Regions from separate parts of the Homo sapiens genome. Here region 1 is linked to region 2. The links come from fine-mapping of genetic effects on plasma protein levels. A gene starts in region 2. The other region holds a variant in brackets. All regions are shown on one strand. Distances are from middle to middle. Region 1 holds the start of SCOC (short coiled-coil protein). Region 2 holds the start of CLGN (calmegin).

Evidence for each region. A credible set is the group of variants that fine-mapping cannot tell apart. PIP is the posterior inclusion probability: the model's chance that the variant is causal. The UK Biobank Pharma Proteomics Project read protein levels with antibody pairs (Olink). The fine-mapping took linkage between variants from a reference panel, not from the people measured, so its PIPs are less certain.
Region 1: its variant is the best candidate, but not a certain one, in a credible set for the plasma level of the CLGN protein (UK Biobank, PIP 0.68).

Annotation. Positions count from the first base shown.
Region 1 is chr4:140,368,639-140,378,358 of GRCh38, reverse strand. It overlaps SCOC (short coiled-coil protein), which reads right to left and starts at 4,713. Exons shown (of 4, transcript NM_001153484.2): 1 at 4,642-4,713. SCOC-AS1 (SCOC antisense RNA 1) reads left to right here and starts at 4,967. Exons shown (of 5, transcript NR_033939.1): 1 at 4,967-5,096; 2 at 9,009-9,049. RefSeq lists a silencer at 4,424-4,623 and enhancers at 4,784-4,833, 4,529-5,030. The variant A/G (reference allele first, on the strand shown) is at 5,474.
Region 2 is chr4:140,424,502-140,433,937 of GRCh38, reverse strand. It overlaps CLGN (calmegin), which reads left to right and starts at 6,290. Exons shown (of 15, transcript NM_004362.3): 1 at 6,290-6,401. RefSeq lists an enhancer at 7,084-7,133.

The DNA.
Region 1 (9,720 bases), 56 kb after region 2:
AACATGAAAATGAAAAAATGCTCTGATATTAAGGATGACGGTATGGATGAAGATAAAATTGTTTCAAATATTCTTCTTCATTAAAGTATTGCTTTACATATACTGTTTAATTTTTTACAAATAAAATTCAAAAGATAAATACTAGACCATCTAAAATATTAATATGGAATAAATGAAAAAATGTCCATTCATCAGCTCCTAGTCAGGGTTAAATCAAAACAGACTAATCAGGATGTAAATAAGTAAATAAATACTAACATTTTATTATTACAATGAAGACTTCTAAATATTAGAACAAAAAATTTCTATAAAACATGTTCTGCTCCATTGCTAACAATCATTTCATTCAATATGTTCAAAATATATTAAATAATGTCACCAGATTATTACTGAAAACAGATTTGTTAACCAATCTAATCTACTACATTGAAGCAACCTAGACCTGTCAGTGTTATTCTTTCAACAAGTATTTACTGAATATCTTCTATGCCCAAGGCATTGTTATGCCTCCGTATCTTAAACAGTAGAAAGCAGACCTATTAAATAAGGATATCTACATACTAGAACTAGAATCACAATAGAGATATCAGTGTATTACACATTCTCTCACAGCTGTTAATACAAATCTTGTTGTACTTCAGATACTAACATGAAATTTGAAAATGCCCAGTGTACATCTACATAAATCCTGTTACACTTTAGATACTAACATGAACTTCAAATTAAAATGCCCAGTGTACATATACATAAACTTCAAGTTTATAGTTCAAGTTAGATAGCACTCACTAGTCTAGAAAAAAATATGAAATATCCCTTGTATAACATTATTAAATAATTAACTACAAATGGTATACAATTAATTTAATAATGCTGAATAAACCTACTCCAAGTCTTCTAGCATCTGTCCCCTTATCTAAACCGCATTTAAAGTTGCTCTGCCCGACCTCTTTTTCACATTATTTAATTCTCAGGTTCTCTGCATTTCAGATTACTAAAATTTTTCCAACAATTCTTTTTTTAAAAGTTATTCAGCCTACTGTAGTATTTAAAGACCACACTCCAAAAACTATTCCTCTCCATTGAATCAACATGTCTCTTTAACTATAATTGAAGAGGAAGAGTGTCAGTGAAAACTTGATTTGACATTTCCCTGACAGAGAAGCACACCTGTAACCAGGTACTACAGTCATTCTCTTTTCATACCATTTCAACCACTGATCCAGCTAAAAGAGGTCTGAGTAAGATGAGAGAGGCAACAGCCAAAAGCAAAAGTGATCGTGGGAGTGCTCAGCAAGAGTAAGCTGCAATTTGGCATCTGTCTTTGCTAAATAATAAATTAAAAGTGCTTCAAATTTCTCATATCCAATGATTTTAAGGCTACAGCTAGAACGAATTTTCATGATAGCTAAGAAGAGTTATAAGATATACAAGCCAAAGCAACAGATAATCAGAAAATCGACACAGCTGATTTTGAAGTCAGATATAATACAGTGATAGGGTAGTCTTCTTTTGCTTATGTTTCAGACTAATATTTAAATTAAACCAAAAAGTCTGCAAAAACACAAGTATTCCAAACTCACCAATATAAGAGGTAAAGAAAAAGAAGCCAGTTTCTGAAATTCTGACCACATATAATTCAAACAATAGAAAACCTATGCATGGTTTAGCAACAGTGTGACTTCATCTGAAAAAGTGAAAGAAAATAAAAAGCAGAAAAACAGGGTGGAGAGGGCTTATTAAAGGAAAAATTACTCTTACACTCAAGATTAGGGTAGAGGCAGGAGCACAAAAGTAGTGCCACAAGAACAGTGCTATAAGGGTATACAACGCGAGAGAGCACAATTCACACCACAGTCTACGTAAGATTGCATCCCAAGTGTTGCACAGTGAAAAAACCGCCCACTGTATCTGGCAGCCCTACGCATAAGGGCATTACTCTTTAGTACAGTGGACCACAGCATTACCTGCTGCCTTTCCACGACAAAAGAACAAGAAGCAATTGTATTTTATTGTGATGTGATCAAATAGACCCATCTCAAAATGCTACTATTGTATTAATATATATTCAAAGTCTTTCAGTAGATTTAGGGCAATAAACTGATTTGTTTGACATATGGGATCAAAAGACTTGCTGAGTTCTTTATGTCAAAGTATTTTAGCCATGGATTTTTTCTTTTAAAATAGTATTGATCCCCAAACTGCCCAAAGTCTACATTAACACAGTACTACATCATAACAGATACTTAATACTGAGCTTTTCAAATTTTTCAACTATAAAATCCTTTTTTACCTATAGTTGCTATAACATCAATCTAATTCCATGTCAAATATGCTCTTAAGAGTTCACTTTCAACTCCTTCTGCTCCTATATATAAACGCAAATCTGATGAAAAACGAGAAAATTAAGACCAAGTCTGCTCAAGCGTGGGAACACTGAAATGAATTTGGGGCGCTGAGGCTGCTCTGCCTATCCTAAACCACCTTACCCCAGAAATGGACATGGTTCGCTGAGATTCTTCAGCTCTGATGTATGGCTAGGTCAGACCTTTCAAAGGTTTCTCAAAAAACACAGTAAATTCGGGTATCTAGCCTTGGTTAGTGGAAGGGAATCTAGAATTACTTTTTTGATTATTTAAGTCCAGGAGGCAGAACGCATAGAGAGAATACAAACCAGGAAATGTGGCAAACATTGGGACAAGATTCATTTAATTAAATAATTTTTGCCATGCACACACACCTGTGACCAAAGACGATCATCTTACCAAATATGCCCCTATCTTATTTTACAGTTATCTCTAATAGTGTACAATATCCACAATATCACTCTCCTCAAGAGGCAGCCTGGCACAATGATTAACAATATGGATTCAGATTACCTGGATTCAAATCCTAGCTCTGCAATTTATAAGCTCTGGAACCCTGGGCAAGGTTAACACCTCGGCCTTAAGTTTCCTCATTTGTAAAATGTGGATAATAACCGTACGTATCTCATGGGTTTGTTGTGAGAATGAGTGGATAGATACAATGTGTTGGCAACAGTACCTAGTACATAGTAGGTATTCAATAAATGTCTGCTATCGTCTTCTCTACCTTTTAGCTCTAATTTGGGCAACAGAAAGAATTTAAAGAAAACCATCTGGTCCAGCTGCTTCATTTTACAAAATCAAGGCCAAAGATGACAATGGCTTACTGAAGACCACAGAAGTAGTTAGCAACAGGGCCAAGACTACAACAAATGCCCAGTGTTTTTTCCACCATTCCACCACAACTATTGTCACATCTGAGCCTGCAGATTTTGAGACTTTTTCCTAATACCCGTCCATCTTCAGCCACTCAACTTTTCTGCATCTAAAATTGATTTCACCATCTGTCATACTGGAGAACTACTAAGACTGCTAAAATAATGTCTTCGTGCATTAATGTGCTAAATGCTTTGCATATGTTATTTCATCAAATCAACAGAAGGAAACTGCAATTTACAGATATGGACACTAAATTTCAGAAAGTCTATATATCTTTCAGAAAAGCTGTTTCAGAGGTTTCACAGCCAATGTCTCTACCAAGAATTTGAACCCAGGTCTAACTTCACAGTCCATGCTTTTTCCATTATGCAATGGAAAAAACTTTAATATGGCCCTAATCTTAAGTTTGCCAAACATTTTGCTACCACTGATGTCAAACTCCTCTGGAATCTTTACTAAGCAACTGAAAATAAACTCCATTCCCTTCAAGCTACGGAACTTCAATATAATGTCTGTTCAGATCTGTTCAAGTTCTGCTTTGACTTGTCCTGGTTAAATAAATCCAGTTTCAAATTCCACAAGATCAAGGAACTGTTTGGCCAAATGAGGATTTAAATGGAAGCTATACTCTCAGAGAATGGCTAGCTACACTGATTTTAATCAGGAATAGAGGTACCAGAATACATGGGCACAGCTTTGGGTCCTCGGGCATAGAAAACGTGTTGGCAACCTGGAATGGCATCTGTCCTTATTGTTGCGTAATAGTGTGAGGTTGACACACTGTATAACAGAAGCCCTGCCTTTCAGGAATGTATCCTCTTTCTCCTTTCCAAACCTTTCTTCCCAAAACTTGTTCAGCAGGACTCTGGGGGAGAAGACGATCAGGAAACAAACCCAGGTGCCGCTTTCGCCGCCTGGAAAAATGGTCCAATCCTTATTTTACGGCTCTCTAGGCTCCCTCCCCACCTCAGCCTCCCCTCCCATCTCTCAGGCTCTCGCAGAGCAGCCACGGGAAGGTCCAGGCGTGCCAGGTCCCATTCCACCCAAACGCCCCTCCCGCAGTCCAATTCCAGAGCCGAGAGCTGCAAAGCGGCTCCCGACCCAGGAGCTGCGGGGAGAAAGCTACACGATGTCTGCGTCAGGGACCGCGAGAGGTCCCTCTCCCAAAGAACGCCTGGGCCTGACAACGAAAACAGGAGAAAAAGAGGTCGCGCAAGGGTTCTGCCGGGAGCCAGGCCTCCGCCGCCCACCAAATGCCCAGGCCCGAGACCGCTCCTCCCGGGCCCCCGGTGCGCAGGGCCGCGTCCAGCCCGCCCCGCCCTCCAGGCCCTCGGAGGTACTGAGGATGCAGCTCTAGTCGCCTGGGGCCAGGCCCTCCGCTGCCCGGGACGGCCCTCACCTTCCGCTTGAGGCGCCGGGAGAAGGAGGGATCCGGCCGACACCTCAGGCCGGGACACTTGGACCAACTGACCCCGGCAGCTCCGCCCACTCCGCCCACAGAACGTGCGCCGTGAGAAGAATCCCATCCCGTCCCAGCCGCTCGCCCGCCAATCCTGACTCGAGAATACACGCCTGCGCATTAGCTGCCCGCCTCACCCCAGTCGTCCAATCTCAAAGCACCGGGATCCACCTTTGCCATAACAAAAGGACACTGACATCCAATCAGGATTGAGGTCGCTGTGGGCGGGACCTGGAACAGCGACAGCCAATGACAGTAAAGAAGCGAAGCTAAGCGGCGCTGGTGAAGCGGCTCATCAGGTCTATCAGGAAACCTGAGAATTGGAGTGAGAATCCCAGTGTGGAAAATCAGGAAAGAGGCTGGTATGAGCGACAGAGAAGTCATTCAGGAAAGAGGTTGGTATGAGCGACAGAGAAGTCATTCAAGTTCGAGAAAAGAGCGTTTGCGAACCAAGCAGAGAAAGTCAACGCGACACCGTCGTTCCTTAATTCTAAAAGCAGACTTTTTCATATTTTTCTTATTTCCGAAATCGGAAAGCTTATAGTTGAGCTAGTGGAATGTTCCTCTCCTCACGCCCCTCCTCCGAAACTATTATTAAATCTGTAGTGCGTGGCCATTTAATATTTTAGAATTGAGAAAATACCCTAGTGGTACTGAGGCATAGCACTTGTGCTTACCTTACCCCTGTGGAGCCTCACAGCAACCCACAGAAAGGAACTGAAGCCTGAGCGTGAACACATTTCTTGCTCAAGGTCACATATACGGTATCAAG[A/G]GTGGAGTGTTCTTCGTGACACCGTTCATCGTAATCTAGTACTTGACACAAAGCGGCATCCTGCTTTAATATTCGTTGAGTACAAGGTAGACATCCACAGCAATACATTATTATTTTGGCTTTGGCACAGCCTCCTAAGCTGTAGAGACAAGCCTTATGTCTCCCTGTTTCTTGACTTTTTACTTCTGGCACAGTTTGCTGACACATCGCCTTAATCATTTTAAGAGCTATATAAAAATATCTTCTATTCAGTGTTTTGAGAACTATGCATTTGGCTGCGACTGCAATATTCAGTTTGAGGAAATTTACTAGAATGCAATGTAGGAGCTAAATAAATGAAAAAAAATCCAACATAAATCTAATAGGAGTGCCAAAAAAGAGAGACTAGAGAGAATGGATGCAGGCAGTATTCAAAGAGTAATAACTAAGAATTTTCCAAGATTGTGGAATATTTGAATTTTCAGATTCAAGAAGTACTTATTCTTGAGCAGGATTAATATAAGAATTCTATGCAACGGTGAAATTGCAGGACACCAAAGATCAAGAGAAACTATTAAAAGCAACCTTTTGTTTTTGCTAGAACAGTATTTTTAAATATTTTTAATTGTAGTGAAATATACATAGAATAAAATTTACCATCTTAACCATTTTTAACTTCAGTAGTATAAGATACATTCCACATTGTTCTCCAACCAATCTCCAGAACCAATCTCTCTTTTCATCTTGCCAAACTAAAACTGTATACCTATTAAAGAGCAACTCTCCATTTCCTATTCCCCTCATCCTCTGGCAGTAATCATCTTACTTTGTGTTTATCAGTTTGACTACTCTAGGTACCTCACCTAAGTGGAATAATACAGAATTTGCCCTTTTATGACTGGCTTATTTCATTTAGCATAATGCCTCAGAGTTCATCCATGTTATAGCATATTGCAGAACTTCCTTTTTAAGGCTGAATAGTTCTATATATCATTTATTATGTGTATTATGCCACATTTTGTTTATTCATCTATCAGTGGACGCTTAGGTTGCTTCCTCCTTTTGGCTATTGTGAATAATACTGCTATGGACATGGGTGTGCAAATGTCTCTTTGAGACCCTCTTTTCAGTTCTTTTGGATATACACCCAGAAGTGTGTGTTAATTTGTGCTGAATCATATGGTAATTCTATTTTAAAGCAACTTTTAAAAAAGTGGTATTGACACAAGAATAGACAAAAAGAAAATTAGGAAAAAAAGGGTACCTGGAAGTTGGTATACAATAAAGATGTCTGGTGAGGAATAACTGTTTCTAAGGTTGTGGGGAAAAAACTATTATTCATTACTGTTGGGAGTGTAAATTAGTATAGTAACTGTTCGTGGGATATAGAAAACACAAGTTATGGTGGTTCTAGTTAAATTGGCTATTTATATAAAAATAAGAAATTCAATCCTGATACCACGACAGAAATAAAACTAAATTCCAAATGAAATAATGATCCAAAATGTGACAAACAAAACTCTAAACTTTTAGAAGAAAAGCGTATGTCTGTATATCGCCGTAGGGAAGAAACAGCACGATTCATTAAGGAAAGATGTAAAATATTGATTATTTTAAAATTTGGAAGTTTTACAAACAGAAGAGAAGCCATCTCTAATCAAGTTAAAAAACAAGCCACAGGTTGGCAGAATATAGTAAAACTCTCAAAATATAAAGAATTCAGGCCAGGCGCGGTGGCTCACGGCTGTAATCCCAGCACTTTGGGAGGTCGAGGCGGGTGGATCACGAGGTCAGGAGATTGAGACCATCCTGGCTAACACGGTGAAACCCCGTCTCTACTAAAAATACAAAAAATTAGCTGGGCGTGGTGGCGGGCGCCTGTAGTCCCAGCTACTCGGGAGGCTGAGGCAGGAGAGTGGCATGAACCCAGGAGGCAGAGCTTGCAGTGACATGGTGCCACTGCACTCCAGCCTGGGCGACAGGGTGAGACTCCGTCTCAAAAAAAAAAAAAAGAATTCAGACAAATCAGTAAGAAAAAGACAACTCAAGATAAATATATGCAAATAACGTAAGTAGGCCACTTACAGAAGAGGAAAACTGAACGGCCAGAAAGGTTTTTAAAAAATGTTTACCTTCACTAATAATTAGGTAAAATAACATTAAAACAATTAGATAAAGGGGCATATTCATCAAGAAGACACAAAATCCTAACCACAGTGCTACAAAATAGAAATGAATCAAAAATTAATTGAATTCAAACAGTTCATTACTCCCTGCTCTGCAATTTGTAAAACAACTATACAGATAATTTAAGTATACAGAACTCAGGTCCCAAACTTTTCAGTATATTAGAATCACCTGGGAATCTTTTAATTATTCTAGTGAACAGACCACACCTCAGAATAAATTACAGTCTTAAGGAGTGAGATACAGGCATTAGTATTTTTGAAAGTTACGAAGGTGATTTTGAAAAAAGGCTGGCAAATTTCTGAACTATTGATATAGAAGACCTGAACAATCCTATCAGCCAACTTGACCTAATGGACATTTGTAGAACATTGCACCCAATAACTGAAGAACATGCTTTCTTTTCCAATGCACTTGGAAAATTCATCAAAATAGACTCCACTGTGTATCATCAAACAAATCTCAGCAAATTTAAAATAATTGAAACAGTAAAAATTATTGTCTCTACCCACAAATTAAACTAGAAATCAGTAACAGAAAGATATTTGTAAATCTCCAAATAGTTGGAAATCAAACTATGTACTTCTAAACAAACCATGGGTCACAGGGGAAGTCACACACAAAAAAATTAGAAAGTAATTTTAAACTAAAATGTAAACATAAAAAGGCAGCTCTTGCATGACTCAGCTTTCAGCTTATTTTCAGCTTTCAGACTTGGGAGGCTGAAGCAGGAGAACTGCTTGAACCCAGGAGGTGGAGGTTGTAGTGAGCTGAGATGGCGCCATTGCACTCCAACCTGGACAACAAGAGCGAAACTCCATCTAAAAAAAAAAAAAAAAAAAAAAAAAAAAAAAAAAAAAAATCCCCCTTCTGAATAAGGAAAGGCTATAAGTACAAATAGAAACCACTGAGATTGCATAGAAATATTTGATTATAAGGTGAACATTCATGCGACCTGGACTATGTGAATATTGATAATATAGTTCATCTAAATAAAGGCACAAAATTACATTTTTTTTCCTAGAGAATGGGGGAAGTCCTAATTGAAAACTGTACAAGGCAATATATTATGTGGGGGAAGAAATGATAAATAATGAAATAGAGAACTTCCAATATCTTTTTGATGTTCCAGTCTGGCACACTCTCATTGTGCACATACAAGCTGCTATTTTGTCTTAATTAGAGGGTTCTAAACGTACTGTGGATATTTAAGGTGAAATATGCTAAATGGAAGCATTTTTGATAACTTTCAAGTATAACCAGGTGTGTTGTCTGATGCTTTAAGCTCATTAATTTGCAGAACATGTTCCATCTCATTCCTAAATAAGAACTCACATTTTCTTTTTTACTCATTTTTTTCACTTGAAAGGTTATTGAATTCATTGGAGAATGAATGCTGTTCTGAATTTGGTGAGTAAAGAATATAACCTATTTGTTAAAACTTGATTTCAAAACTAGACGTAATTGTATACTACAGCCTAGTATACTATACTCAACAGTATACCATATAGCTATTTGGTAAATTAAGGTGTTCATGTATACTTTCTCAAGATTATAATTTCTGATAATAACCAAAAGTAAATAAATTTGATGAGTCATTTTCATTTATTTGTTCAATAGGTAGAGGGAATGTAAGAAATTACCAATGTACTTTTAGAGTTTTTTCAAGCAAGAATTCCAAAGGATTTCAAGGTCTTTATGGAATCAAGCTTTGGACTTTATCATAAAAATGGAAATAATTAGGAATGATTCTGTGCAGTCTCGGTGCTGTGAAAGGAGAATAAAAACGTGAGACTCCAGTTCACTCTGCCAGAAGGAAAAAAATAAGCTGAAAGCTGAGTCATGCAAGAAGCTGCCTTTTCTTCTGTTCCTAAGCAGATAGCTACAGATAAAAGGTTAAATATCTCCATAGGTAGCTACTCTATGTTCACCCTATTTCATGTAAAGTGCTGATTTGCTGCACACAAGATGAATGCATCATTCACCATTCCCCTACCTGCGCCTTTTCTCCTGCAACTTAGATTACTATACCCTCGCTCTTACCTCTCCAACCCACTTTTCCCCTTTAAATACTGAAGCTC
Region 2 (9,436 bases):
ATCAGTAGTGGTACTGCTGACTCAAAAGGTATGAATATTTTTTATTTTAACAGATACTGCCAAATTGCCACCAGAAATAGCCATATCAACATATATCCCCAAGAGTAGTGTTTGAAAGCAGCAGTTTTCCCAAGTCTTGCCCTTTGCTATTAGTGAGCTTTGAAATTGTTGCCAGTCTAGTGAAAGCAGTATTTTGTTATAGTCTTAGTTTGCCTTTCTCAAATTACAAGTAGGGTTTAAATTTTCTCACATATTTATATCTTTCCTGATTTTTTATTTGAGATGGAGTCTCGCTGTGTCGCCCAGGCTAGAGTGCAGTGGCACAATCTCGGCTCACCGCAAGCTCCGCATCCCAGGTTCACGCCATTCTCCTGCCTCAGCCTCCCGAGTAGCTGGGACTACAGGCGCCCGCCACCATGCCCAGCTAATTTTTTTTTCTATTTTTAGTAGAGATGGAGTTTCACCATGTTAGCCAAGATGGTCTCGATCTCCTGATCTCGTGATCTGCCCGCCTCGGCCTCCCAATCCTGATTTTTTTAATGAGCTATTTGTCTTCTTCTTCTTCATTTAAATATGAGGTTCTTAAAACACATACAGGAACCTAATTAAACTCCTAAACTAAATATTAATAGTTTGTCATAGGCTAAAATTACTTTTCTCAGAAAGTCTTTTGTCTTAAACTTATTTTGTATTGTCTTTTGACATACAAAATTTTCAACTTTGAGATAGCCAAATATATTAATAATTTCTTTTATGACTTTTTCACTTTTCGTATTGTTTAAAACAACCTACCTACCCACATCAAGCATATAGTCCCATATATTATATTATAAAACTTCTATAATTTTTAAAGTTTAGGTCTCTATTTCCATTAAAATAGTGTGTGTGTGTGTGTGTGTGTGTGTGTGTAATGGTAGAAAATCCAACTCTAAATCTTTCCACCCCAAATGTAGAGCCAGATGGCCCCACTGATTTATATATTTATTAGTCCATTTTCATGCTGCTGATAAAGACATACCTAAGACTGGGCAATTTACAATAGAAAGAGGTTTAATGGACTTACAGTTCCACATCGCTGGAGAGATCTCAAAATCATGGCAGAAGGTTAAAGTCACACCTCACATGGTGGCAGACAAGAGAAGAGAGCTTGTGCAGGAAAATTCCTGTTTTTTTTAAACCATCAGATCTCATGAGAGTTATTCACTATCACAAGAACAGCATGGGAAAGACCCACCCCCATGATTCAATTATCTCCCACCAGGTTCCTCCCATGAGACTTGGGAACTGTGGGAGTTACAATTCAAGATGAGATTTAGGTGGGGACACAGCCAAACCATATCATTCTGCCCTGTCCCCTCCAAAATCTGATGTCCTCACATTTCAAAACCAATCATCCCTTTCCAATAGTCCCTCAAAGTCTTAACTCATTTCAACATTAACTCAAAAGTCTGCAGTCCAAAGTCTCATCTGAGACAAGGCAAGTCCCTTCCACCTATGAGCCTGTAAAATCAAAAGCAAGTTAGTTACTTCCTAGATACAATGGGAGTACAGGCATTGGGTAAATACAGCCACTACAAATGGGAGAAATTGGCCAAAACAAAGGGGCTACAAGCCCCATGCAAGTCTGAAATCCAGCAGGGCAGTCAAATCTTAAAGCTCTCCTTTGACTCCATGTCTCACATCCAGGTCACGCTGATGCAAGAGGTAGGTTCCCACGGTCTTGGGCAGCTGCACCCCTGTGGCTTTGCAAAGTATAGCCTCTCTCCCAGTTGCTTTCACAGGCTGGTGTTGAGTGTCTGCAGCTTTTCCTGGTGCACAGCGCAAGCTGTCAGTGGATCTACCATTCTGGGGTCTGGAGGATGGTGGCCCTCTTCTGACAGTTCCACTAGGTGGTGCCCCACAAGGACTCTGTGTGGGGGGCTCTGACCCCACATTTCCCTTCAGCACTGCCCTAGCAGAGCTTCTCCATGAGACCCCCGCCCCTGCAGCAAACTTCCACCTGGGCATCCAGGCGTTTCCATACATCCTATGAAATCTAGGTAGAGGTTCCTAAACCTTAATTCTCAACTTCTGGGTACCCACAGGCTCACCACCTGGAAGCTGCCAAGGCTTGGGGCTTCCACCCTCTGAAGCAGCAGCCTGAGCTGTACGTTGACCCCTTTTAGCCATGGCTGGAGCAGCTGGAACACAGAGTACCAAGTCCCTAGGCTGCACAGAGCAGAGGAGCCCTGGGCCCAGCCCACAAAACTGTCTTTTCCTCCTAGGTCTCTGGACCTGTGATGAGAGTGGCTGACATGAAGACCTCTGACATGCCGTGGAGACATTTTCCCATTGTCGTGTGGATTAACATTTGGCTTCTTGTTACTTATGAAAATTTCTGCAGTGGAGATTTTCATTTCTATCACATTGTCAGGCTGCAAATTTTCAAACCTTTTATTTTCTGTTTCCCTTTTAAAACGGAGTGCCTCTAATAGCACCCAAGTCACCTCTTGAGTGCTTTGCTGCTTAGAAATTTTTTACACCATATATCCTAAATCATCTCCCTCAAGTTCAAAGTTCCACAAATATCTAAGACGGGGCAAAATGCAGCCAGTCTCTTTTTTTATATATGCTGTGTGGTATGGATTGAAAAATGTACTTATTACATGTGAATATTCAATTGTACCACCACAATTTGTTGAAAAGACTAGGCTTTCTCTACCAACTGCATGTGTACCTATGTTGAAAACCAGTTCCCCACACTGTCTTATTCTGTTTTGTGTTGCTATAACAGAACACCTGGGAATGGGTAATTTATAAAGAAAAGAGATTTATTTAACTCACAGTCTGGCTAGCTGGGAAGTTCAAGGACATGGCTCTGGCTTGTGGTGAGGCTTTTGTGCTAGGCCAAAAGATGGCAGAGAAGGTCAAAGGGGAAGCAGACGCATGCAAAGAGGGAAAACCTGAGGGGCACCCAGCTTTATAACAACCCATTCTCATGGGAATGAATCCAGTCTCGTCAGAGCAAGAACTCACTCACTACTGCAATGGCATCAAGCCACCTACGAGGACAGGACCTTCATGACCCAAATACCTCCCATTAGGCCCCACTTTCCAGCACTGCCACACTGGGGACCAAATTTCAACATGAGTTTTGGTTGGGACAAACCAACCATATCCAGGCCATAATACATACACATGTAAGTCTATATAGAATCTATTCTGTTCCATTGATTTGTTTGCCTTGATACTAATACTCTTTGATAACTCTTTGATAACTATAGCTGTATATCATTCTATAAATCCTAAAGTCGGGTAGTGTTTCTGAGGGGGGTTATCTTGAGACACAAGAAAAAAACTCAGCATGGGCTCATTCTGCCAACTATATAGTTTAACCAGACGAATTCTGGGAAAAACAATGATGACTATTGTCATTACTATTATTTACTATTGTTTGATATTTTTGTTAAAGTAATAAGGAAAAAAACCTCAGAAAATAAGTATAAATATAAGAAAGAAAAGATCATTTTCTGCCATAGACATAATTATACATCTTGAAAATAAAAGTCAACCCACTGGAAATACTTGTGGAATACTTTGTTTCCTTTTCTCTATTTTCTGCACCATTAAAAAGCACATTCCTAAACATATGAAAATATACAAACATTTTTAAAGTATTATTTGAATTATCTAGGTTCTGAGTCCACTCATTGTATTTGAGTTAAAACTTCATTCTGCATAGCTCTTTAATCCTGATAATCGAGGCATTTCCTATATTCTGCATTTTTCAAGTGGCAAGGTGTTGTGGAAAGGGCACAGGCTTTGAATCCTCACTCTGCATCTTAAGATCTGTGTGAATAAGTTATGTAACTGATCTGGGTCTATTTCCTCATAAGTAAAATAAGGATGATACCTGTGGGTCAATTGCATATAGCAACTTGCACATAGTAGAACATTAATAAAACACAGCTCTGATTTTGATTACAAAACAGGCTTCCAACAGGACATCACTCTGTTCCATCAAGGAGCATGAACCTTTCTGCTTTTTTTTTTTTTTTTTTTTTTTTTTTTTTTTGACACAATGTCTCACTCTGCCATCCAAGCTGGAGTGCAGTGGCACTATCTGGGCTCACTGCAACCTCTGCCTCCTGGGCTCATCCCACCTCAGCTTCCTCCCACCTCAGCTTCCCAGGTAGCTAGGACTACAGGCATGCACCACCATGCCCAGTTAAATTTTTTGTATTTTTTTGTAGAGATGGGGTTTCATCATGTTTCCCAGGCTGGTCTCAGGCAGCTCGGCTCAAGTGATCTACCTGCCTCAGCCTCTCAAAGAGCTGGGATTACATGCATGAGCCACCATGCCAGGTCACCTTTCCTGCTTTTTATGTTTTTCTAGATTTCTGATTACTCTAGTCCCTCCAATCTTGATTACATTGCCTTGGTCTCTTCCCAAATCTCTCTTCAACTTTGATGTGTCAGAACACTTCACGACTCTACCATTCAGCATTACATTCTGGGACTCCTCCGCTTGTATTATTAAACACTACATCACTCTCAAAAGCCATACCCCTTGTCTTATTTGCAGATTATTCTTTCTCCTCTGACATTATCACATTGTATTATTCTGATGAAAAGTTGCCTATTAAACAAATTATAAATATTATATTCAATCATCCTTTCAATAAGTGGCAAATAATTTTGGAGATATGTTAAGGCCTTAAATTTCAAGGTTAGAGATTAGATTTCATGCTGTGGGTAATGAAGGGTCATTGGAAACTATTGAATGAGCTGAGGATTAAACTACGAAGTGTAGGTGGGAGGCTCTGAAGGGGGGCAACTAGTTAGGTAACTCTGAACAACAGTTTCTAAAGTAGTGAGAATCTAAACTAGAGAAATGGCACAGGGACTGGAGGGGGTGAGGACCTCTTTTAGATGATTTTATGGAGTTAGAGTTTAATTTATGGAGGCAGTGAATGTAGCAGCCAAAGAGTAAAAAAATGTTCTCAAGGTTTTGAGTACTATGTGACCAAGAAGATACTACTAAATCTTGCAAAAATTCACTATTCTTACATTTTTAGTTTTCAGCTTCCTCACTGCAAACTTTGAATGGATCCTTTAAAAAATCCCTCTCTAGCAGTTCAAGTGTATTTGTTATGGGCCACAGAAGTATGTTGAATAATAGAAGTCAGAAGGACGGAAGAAAGAAATAAAGGGTATAATATTGTTACAAAGTATCTCAAACAAAATGTCTTTTTAACCAGTAAATTTTAACACTATCCAAACACTCTCCCAGAGATGACAAAGTCAAAAGTTTAGAAATGCTGGTCTTAATTAGTGAAGCAATGTGAAAAAACTCAGTGATCTTGACCCCTAGCCAATAATGATACGTTGTGCACGGAATGCCACCAAACCCTTAAGATTGAAACTCTTCAACAAGGGTCTTAGACTCACAAGTCAATTAAATGTTGTTAATTAATCTTCCAATAAAATTAAATTGTTATACCAAATTCAAAGTCAAGATTTACTATAAAATATTAAGTAGTAAAATTAATATTGATCCAATATATAAAAGGCAAAGCAGCTTGTGATTGCATAATCATAGCATAAACTACGTTTATGCTAAGATTTATTTCAATGTGTTTGAAACTACAGGCTCTGAGAGAGACAGGCCTGATTTACATCCCGTTTCCACTGTTTACATGTTGTGTAACTTCGAGCAAGTTGCCATCAGTTTCATCACCTGGGTTGCCACGAAGGTTAAACAATGAATGTAAGCCCCTTAGAGCACAATGAACACAATAAATGTTAGCAGCTCTTATTAATAGTGTTGTTCGAGAGAAAAAGAACATATTGTTTTATATACAATGTATTTATTAACACTTAACGCATCTGTATTTGTCATATACACACACCAGACAGGAAAGCTCCTTATTAATCACCATGACTGCAGATCTGTTAACATCTAGAACTCTGGAGAAAACCTAGAGCCCTAATCTTGCTGCACTTATTACTGGACGTTGTTCATAAATATGATTTACATAAAATTCAGGACCCAATCATTGCGCAACAGGAGGTAGCACGGTCTGCAGAGAGGGCGGGAGCTCAGAGGAGGAAAAGTCTTCGGACTTGCAGGGGGAATTCCTCCTGGGCTAACCCGGGAGCGGGGTCCAGGCCACAACCGGCCGGCGGCGGCACAGGCTCCATGTGCGGCTCCCCCTGGAGGCGGTTGAGCCCCTCGGAGCAGGAGCGCGTAGCACACACCTCGGGCCGCCACCGCCTCCCGCCCGCCACCGCACGCGCACGCGCGGTTAGTAGTCGCTGCTGCGCGGCCGCCGGCGGGACTGGTCTGAAGAGACGCGGGGACCAAGTGGCAACGACTTGGACATCTGAGCTGTCACTGCCGAAAACAGGCCGCAAGAGAGGTGCGTGAGCAGCAGGCCGCGTTCCCGCTGTCCCGCTGCCCTTTGCGCGCAGATTGGGGTGAGGAAGCGGAGTCGTTGCTGCTTCCCCCAGGCACCCCGTTACTTTGCCGCCAGAGGGCTGAACCGGTCGGGGCCAAGTGAGGGTGGATGTTGAGTCTGGCGATGGGGCTGCAGCGAGCTAGGGTCTTGACTGGGCTCTGGCGGCCCCGTGGGTGGACGCAGGAGGTGGTGCCACCTGGGACCCTTTGTGTCTTCAGCACCGCCGCATCCACCTGCTGCGCCCGGGCTGGGGCGGACGAGCACGGGGACAGCTAGGTGCCTAGCCCGGCCGGCCTCCCCTGCGGGCTTGAGGAGCCACCGGGAGCCGAGGCCGTTATTCCAGCGGTTGCCATTGCAGCCCCGTTCCACGCTTGAGCCCGGGGCGCTCTCCCAATGGTTGTAGAGGGGGCCCGGGGCGCGTCTGGGCGCTGCTCACTCTGCTGACTGCTCCTTACAGAAACCCAAACGAGATCAAAATAGGCTCGGCTGTCTCAGTCTCCACCTATGTGGAAGCGAAGGGACCCCACTTCACGGCGGTGGGGCCAGGGACTGTTGGCCGCTCCCTCGATACCCGCGCAGAGCCCATTGTGCGCCGCCGGGGGGCGGGCGAAAGGGCTGGGTTGAATCCAGAGAGGCCCTAATTACTAGACTCATTATCGCCCCAGGCCTGTTTACCATCAATCAGACACTTTCGCTGATTTTATTTATAGCATCTGCCCAAGCAACAAAGAGGAGGTGTTTGCTTGGGAGTTAAAAGCAAATGGCAACCAAAGCTCAGGACTGGGAGAGAAAAGGTAAATAACGTGGCCACAGGAAGAAGTCTCAAATTAGAAAAGAGTTCATTAACGTATAAACTTTTTGTTGCTTAAAAGCAGGCAAAATCCCGATCTCATCTGATGATTTTGCTTGTTTTACAAATGTCGACATCACTCGAGGTAGCCCTCCTTTGGGTCATTGTAAGTTTGACCTGTTTTCAGTTTGGAGTTTTGCCTTCACGTCTTATTGGTTTGATCTTCCAGTAACATTTAGATCTCATCTCCAAATCCTCAGAACAAGATATTCTGTACTCTCTGTCTTAGCTAGTTGATAAGGTTAATTATTGTGTGTAAATGATGTAAGTATGTTGATGCATTTGTCTAGAAATTGAAGTGTTGTAAGTTAGCTGTAGTACTTTTTAAGTACCTAATAAATACTGGTGTTTTTAAATAGAAAACTAGAATTATGAACTTTAAAGAATCTTTGGATTGTCTAGTTCACGTCACAAATGAGAAAACAGGCCCACAGCAGTTTTTATCACTTGTCTTTTTAATAATAAAACTAGAAACTTGGTGCGATTGTGCCATGTTGGGTGTACTTTTTATTATATCATTCTACATTGCATTCCTGAAGCCACATGACAACTAAAACTTTAAGTAATAGGTGATTGTCAAACACCACTTCTGGAATATACCAGTGTTGGTCGGATCCTCAGTCAGCCATTAAAACTGAATAACAGCAGAAAGGCATCGCAGTTATAAGAAATAGCATGTACAAAAAGTGTGTTAAATAGGTGTGTTGAGAGTGAAAGAAGGCCCGGCGCGGTGGCTCACGCTTGTAATCCCAGCACTTTGGGAGGCCGAGGCGGGCGGATCACCTGAGGTTAGGAGTTGGAGACCAGCCTGACCAATATGGTGAAACCCCGTCTCTACTAAAAATACAAAAATTAGCCGGGCATAGTGGCGCGCGCCTATAATCCCAGCTACTCGGGAGGCTGAGACAGGAGAATCGCTTGAACCAAGGAGGCAGAGGTTGCAGTGAGCCGAGATTGTGCCACTGCACTCCAGCCTGGGTGACAGAGCAAGACTCCATCTCAAAAAAAAAAAAAAAAAAAAAAAAGGAATTACAAAAATGTGTCACAGAAACATAAAGTGACTATAGTGTTGGAAAAATGGCAGCTGTAGACTTGTTCAATGCAGTGTTGCCAGAAACCTTCAATTTGTGAAAAATGCAATAAATCAACGTGCAGTAAAATGAGGTATGCCTGTATGTACACACACACACACACACACACACACACACACACACACACCCTATTGATTCTGCTTCTCTGATGAACTCTGACTAATAAAATGACTCTCCTCCAAGTAATGATTCAGGGATTCTGCAACTTCCTACCTTGGAATTTTGCCGTTTTCAACCATGACCTTCAAAATTGCTTGCATCAAACCAGAAGGGGAAAGATCATAAAGAATTATAATTCATAATTATAGGAAGTTTTTATGGGCAAGGGCTGACAATGGCATACAGGTCTTCTATTTACATTCTGTTGGCTGGAACCAGGTAATGGTCACATCTAGTGCCAAGGAAATTACCCTTGTGATCAGCCAGCAACTTCTCCCACACTATACAACACATATTGCATATCCTGTGATTGTCTTTTCTTTGTGTGCCTTACTTACCTTTGATGTGACAGTGAGCATTACTTCAATACCAGTACATGAGCTGCACTTTATAATTTGTAATTTGGGGGTGGTAGTGGAGATCCAGTAGGGTTTTTAGGAGATATTGGTGTAATTATTTAAAGTAGACCAGACTACTTGATCTAGATTTCAAAGATTGGGAAGAATGGTATCTCATTCATGGATAAAGTTACTTGTGCTTCAATTTGTTATTGAACTACCACAGAAGCAGTGCAGAGAACATACATGAGATCAAAGATACGTGTTGGTGCAGAAGGATGTAGTTCTTCAGTGCCTCCCTTCTTATGAAGGCACAACTGATATTTAGTGATCTCAGCAAGCCTCATGGAGTGAGGAATACATAAGAAGCTTGGAACCCTGGGCATGCTACCTTTTAATTTATAAGGAGGGAAGAGGGTGACATTAGCACTAAATGTTCTACCCTATACCATATAAACAAATTCTTGCTGTACTAAAATTATATAACTTAAACAACCATACAGATCAATAAAGAAATAGATAACACCACAAGCCAACTAAACATAATAAACATATGGA